Regions from separate parts of the Homo sapiens genome. Here region 1 is linked to region 2. The links come from fine-mapping of genetic effects on gene expression. A gene starts in region 2. The other region holds a variant in brackets. All regions are shown on one strand. Distances are between the middles of the regions.

Region 1 (2,909 bases), 130 kb after region 2:
AGCTCCTGGAGATTCTATACTTCACAGTAGCTCGCACTCCACATTTAGCAAGTTGTTAAAATTTTTAGCTGCTGTTTGAGTCCATTTTCTGCTGCTATAACAGAATGCCATAGACTGGGTAATTTATAAAGAACAGAAATTTATTGGCACATGGTTCTGGAGGCTGGGAAATCCAAGATCAAAGGACCAGCATCTGGCAAGGGCCTTCTGGCTGTGTCATCCCATGGCAGAAGTGCAGAGAGGGCAAGAGAGAGCAAAAGGAGCCAAACTTATCCTTTCTTCTTTTATTATTATTATTTTTTGAGACGGAGTCTCGCTCTGTCACCCAGGCTGGAATGCAGTGGCCCAATCTCGGCTCACTGCAAGCTCCACCTCCCGGGTTCACGCCACTCTCCTGCCTCAGCCTCCTGAGTAGCTGGGACTACAGGTGCCCGCCACCACGCCCAGCTAATTTTTTGTATTTTTAGTAGAGACGGGGTTTCATTGTGTTAGCCAGGATGGAAACTTACCCTTTTATAAGAAACCCACTCCAGGCCAGGCATGGTGGCTCATGCCTGTAATCCCAGCACTTTTGGAGGCCAAGGTGGGTGGATCACCTGAGGTCAAGAGTTTAAGAACAGCCTGGCCAACATGGTGAAACCCCGTCTCTACTAAACCTACAAAAATTAGCCAGGCATGGTGTTAGACACCTGTAATCCCAGCTACTTGGGAGGCTGAGGCAGGAGAATTGTTTGAACCTGGGAGGCAGAGGTTGCTGTGAGCCGAGATCACGCCACTGCACTCCAGCCTGGGTGACAGATAAAGACTCTGTCTCAAAAAAAAAAAAAAAAAAAAAAAAAGAAACCCACTCCAGCAATAATGAACCCGCGCCTGTGATGAGGCAATGGGAGGTGGAGGCCACCTCAGGAGGGGGCACTAAAGGGTCTCAGGGCACTGAAGGGTCTCCAGGCACAGGGACAACGTCTGGCTCTTCACTCAGAACTGGATCTGGGAGCTGAGCACAGTAGCTCATGCCTGTAATCCCAGCACTTTGGGAGGCTGAGGTGGGTGGATCACCTGAGGTCAGGAGTTCGATGCCAGCCTGGCCAACATGGTGAAACCCCATCTCTACTAAAAATACAAAAATTACCCGGGCGTGGTAGCATGCACCTGTAGTCCCAGCTACTTGGGAGGCTGAGA[G/C]AGGAGAACTGCTTGAGCCCGGGAGGCGGAGGTTGTGGTGAGCCGAGATCGCACCACTGCACTCCAGCCTGGGCGAGAGAGCAAGACTCCCTTTCAAAACAAACAAACAAACAAACAAACACAAAACAAAACAAAACAAAAAAACAAAAACCTTGATCTGGGAATTCAAAGCCCTGAGCTCATCTCTTTTTCTCATTAGTTTTCCAGTGCACTTAGAGGCAACCAAGTGACCCCACAGTCCCTGTGCCCTTTATTTCCACCCACACATTTGATGCCAGTAGTGACTTGGTCACCCGAGCCCTCTGTGGGCCTTGGGTCCAGGGGTTATGTAACTGCTCCACTACTGTGTGCCATGGAGCCCCAGTGTAGTCCCCGGCAGCAGGATCTGAACACCTCTAAATCCACTGAGATTGGAGAACTGATGCTGAGTTCCCATCCTTAAGATTCTCTTCTCCTGGAAGCATCACCAGTACCAACCACTGTATCACTCGGGGTTCAATCAGGGAAGCAAAGCCACTGCGGGTATTATGGGATGCAGATTCATTATGGGGATGGCCTGACACGATTATGGGAGGAGCTGGAGGTGAAGGCCCAGAGGGGACACGGGGGGTCAGAGCTGACACCTCCCAGCGATCTGAGAAGCCAGGTGTGTCTGGCTGCCAGAAGGGATGTGGGGGACGCTCCTGGAGGGTCCCCTGGGAGCTATTGCCTCTGTGTAGCTGCTGCCTCTGTGAGTTCTTTGGGGAGCCTCTGGGGTGGGCCTGGGGCCACTGCTGGTCAGCAGGCCAGCAGTCAGGAAGACCAAGCGCAGGGTGGAGAACGGCGAGGACAAGCTGGAGCCCCCCAGGCCACTGGGTCTGCCTGTCACCATGGCTGCCTCCTGTGACCTTCAGAGAGCAAAGGTCACTGCTTCCCTTCCAATTTCAAAAGCTCCTATGCAGGAAGCACAGAGGGAGGCCTTCTGGGAAACTCGCCTCTCAGCCTCACCAGGTTGGCTTGGCCCCATTGACGTCTCCCTCCCGCCAATCTGCAGGCTGGGTCAGGATCCTCCCAGGCCTTCGCCCCTCCCAGCACCTCCTCCCCAGCTGACTAAGATGCTGGGGTGGGTCTATTCTATTCAACATGGGTGTGACCAGCCATTAGCACAAGCTTGGAACAGAGCAGCGCTCAATGTGTGTTTGGCAAATGGACGGGTGAATGGAGGACGGGATGATGCCTGCTTGGTGCCAGGCCCTGGGCTGGGCGCAACGAACACAGAAAAGTCAGGGAGGAGGTTTGCTGCTGCCAGAGTTGTGGCCTGTACTTATTCTCTGCAGGGCATTTGGCTAAAGGCTGGGGCCGCGGGAGGAAGGTGGAGATAAGCCGAGCCCCCAACAGCTGGGACATGCCTGGATGAATGTGTTCAGGGCCTCAGACAAACCCAGTGAGAGACCAGGCTGGAAGCGCAGGGCAGGTGAGGCCACTACTGGCCAGTGACTTGCGGAGGACTTCCTGCAGCAGGTGGCATGGGGAGGCTGGAACAGGTGGACCCCTGTGGTGGGGCAGGTGCATGCCAGACAGAGGGTGCTTCAATATATGTGTCCCTGCAAAATTTAGATGTTGGGGCTGGGCACAGTGGCTCACATCTGTAATCCTAGCACTTTGGGAGGCGGAGGTGGGTGGATCACCTGAGGTCAGGACTTTGAGACCAGCCTGGCCAACATGGTGAAACCACGTGTCTACTAAAAATA
Region 2 (2,909 bases):
GGGAGTTGATTGACATTTGAAATAGCTGGGGAAATGATTATTACTTTTTTCCTTTTTTTGCCTGGAGACTCCCAGTATTGGAGGATATAATCATTGTTCTCAATTTTTTGAAGATCTGTCAAGTGGAAGACATTCTGTATTGCTCCAGGCAGCCTAACTACCAGCAATGGAAGGAAATAAAGGGAAACAGATTTCAGCTCAGCAGGAGGCAGAACTTTCTAACATTTAGAGCTGTCCAACAGTGGAGCAGGCTGCATTACTTGAGGGAGTGAGCTCCCTGAAATTTGAACTGTTGAACAGGAAGATGACCATCTGGCTGAATGTACAGGAGGGAATTCCTGCCTGGGCAACAGTTGCACTAGTGACCTTTAAGCAGGTATCTTCCAATTTTAAGGTTTCTAGACTGTTCAACTCAGCTAACTTGACCTCTGAATATATGAGTTATGGTGTTACAAAAATTATTAGACAGTTCATTTATTGACTTACCTAAAATAACTGCATGGTGAAGTTTATGATAAGCAAGATTTTAGAAACTGAGAAGTGGGAAGGCAGGTTTTACACTGAAAATCCAGATACCATCCAAACCAATTAATGGCACTTAGAACAAAAGGGAAGGGAGGGGCCGGCAGCGGTGGCTCACGCCTGTAATCCCAGCACTTTGGGAGGCCGAGGCGGGCGGATCACGAGGTCAGGAGATCGAGACCATCCTGGCTAACACGGTGAAACCTCGTCTCTACTAAAAATCAAAAAATTAGCCGGGCGTGGTGGCGGGCGCTTGTAGTTCCAGCTACTTGGGAGGCTGAGGCGGGAGAATGGCGTGAACCCGGGAGGCGGAGCTTGCAGTGAGCCGAGATTGAGCCACTGCACTCCAGCCTGGGCGACAGAGCCAGACTCCGTCTCGAAAAAAAAAAAAAAAGGGAAGGGAGGTTTGTAAGTAGTGTGTGCGTACGTGTGAGAGAGAAACAGAGAAGAGAGAGAGTCATTCATGCGAATAATGTGTCCTGGGCAACTGAGCGTTGTCACAGAAAGCATAAAACGCTCTACATTTTTGCTTTACACATACTTGCTCAGTCGGATTCTTCACGTCCAGCATTACTGCAGGCGGAAACCAGGGCCCAGGCCTGGTGAACAGCCTTCCGGAAGACGATTCCGGACCCGGACACCCACGACAGCCTCAGGGGGCAGCTGACCTAGGGCTGCCTAAGGCGGAAGTGGGAGCCCCTAGCCGCCCGGGCGGAACTACAGCTCCCAGAGGCCCCCGCGGCGCTGCGCACGCGCGCTGGCGTGGCGGCAGCGCCGCTGCAGGACGCAGGGAAGCCAACAGGCGAGTGGCGAAGGTGGCGGCAGCGGCGGCGGGGGCAGTCACCGGCTAGGGCGACGGCTCCGAGGCCGAGTGGCGGTCCGACAGAGTCCTCCGTGTCCTCCCCCGCATGACCCCCTTGGTGAGTACGCGTCCCGATTTAGTCCGCGGGCTGTGAGCGGCTCCCTGCCTCGCGGCCGGGTTGCTCCGGCCTAGGGCCGCAGCCTGTCTCTGACTGCCCGGCCGTCAGGTCCAACTGACCCCGGGGTCCTGGGCTCTTCCCGTCAGTGTCGGGCGAGGTGGGGGTCGGGGGACACTGGGTTAGACCCAGGGGAGAGATGTGGCGGCGCGCAGGAGCCAGGGCGGCCTGGGGCTGAGGAGAGGGAGAGACGCGTGGGGGATGGGATGGGAAGGGACAGGAGGACCGCGGGGCGGCCTCGGGTGGGGGCCAGAGACGAGAGGCCCGGCAGGTAGGGAACTGAGTATAGGAGGCGAGAACGAAATGGAATGTCTTCTGAGTGTCGCTGATAAAGATATCGTGCTGCAGGGAAGCTTGACAAGCTGGACACACGGGTCTGGGGGCAGCCCACCTAACACAGACACTCACTGTACTTGGCATCTTTCCACTTGCTGTCGGAGGTCTGAAAGTGAGGGAGCTGTTGGTTGTTTCCATCCCTTTTCTTTTAACTTCACCTTTTATTGACTGGCAAAATTGTAGTGAGTGCTGGCTAGGCAAACCACAGAAGTACACCCAGGGTTCTGTGTATAAATGTGCATAAAAACAGGGAGACATAGTGATAGGTTCAGATGAGAACTAGGTCAAAGGAGGAATCAGTGTTTTTATTTTTAAATTTATGACGAAAATCAGTTCTGAGCAGGACTTTGAACTAGAGAGGGGTTTTAAACTGGAGTTCATTGATGGATAGAATTAGAAGGGTCCTTTCACTAGAAGGAGGATAAAATGACATCATTATTTTTATTGACTGCTAACTGAAACTTATTATTTCCTTCAGTTACGAATGTGGACAACAAGCCAGAGTAGCATTAGCAGCGCCTATGACTTTGTGATCAATAAAAATTACGGATATTTTTGCATCATGTTTACAGTTGCAGATAGCTCAGAATATCATTTATGGTTAACACTTCTTTGAATTTCTGGTGTTACTAGACCCGCCGTTAGACATTGTTATTTAATGTGATAATAAGGCTGTACATATATTATGACCATATTAGTTTGTTGTTTTGCTAATATTTCCATATAATTGGTTTCCCTTGTAATCACATGTATTTAATTATGCACTTAAAAGAAATCTGAGAAAGGGACCATAGGCTTCACCAAACTGCCAATGAGGTCCGTGCACAAAAAGATTAAGAACTCCTGAAATAATTTGGGAGGCCGAGGCGGGCGGATCATTGAGGTCAAGAGATCGAGACCATCCTGGCCAACATGGTGAAACCCCATCTCTACTAAAAATACAAAAATTAGTTGGGTGTGGTGGCCCATGCCTGTAATCCCAGCTACTTGGGAGGCTGAGGCAAGAGAATCACTTGAGCCCGGGAGGTGGATATTGCAGTGAGCCAAGATCACGCCACTGCACTCCAGCCTGGC

Evidence for each region. PIP is the estimated chance that this variant, and not a neighbour inherited with it, causes the effect. A credible set is the group of variants that fine-mapping cannot tell apart.
Region 1: its variant is the best candidate, but not a certain one, in a credible set for the expression of GAPVD1 in sigmoid colon (GTEx, PIP 0.55).

Annotation. Positions count from the first base shown.
Region 1 is chr9:125,386,121-125,389,029 of GRCh38, forward strand. No RefSeq gene overlaps it. Among named protein-coding and RNA genes, the nearest start is that of GAPVD1, 130 kb to the left of the region's middle. The variant G/C (reference allele first, on the strand shown) is at 1,180.
Region 2 is chr9:125,260,518-125,263,426 of GRCh38, forward strand. GAPVD1 (GTPase activating protein and VPS9 domains 1) reads left to right here and starts at 1,309. Exons shown (of 28, transcript NM_001282680.3): 1 at 1,309-1,442. RefSeq lists silencers at 1,206-1,387, 1,326-1,455.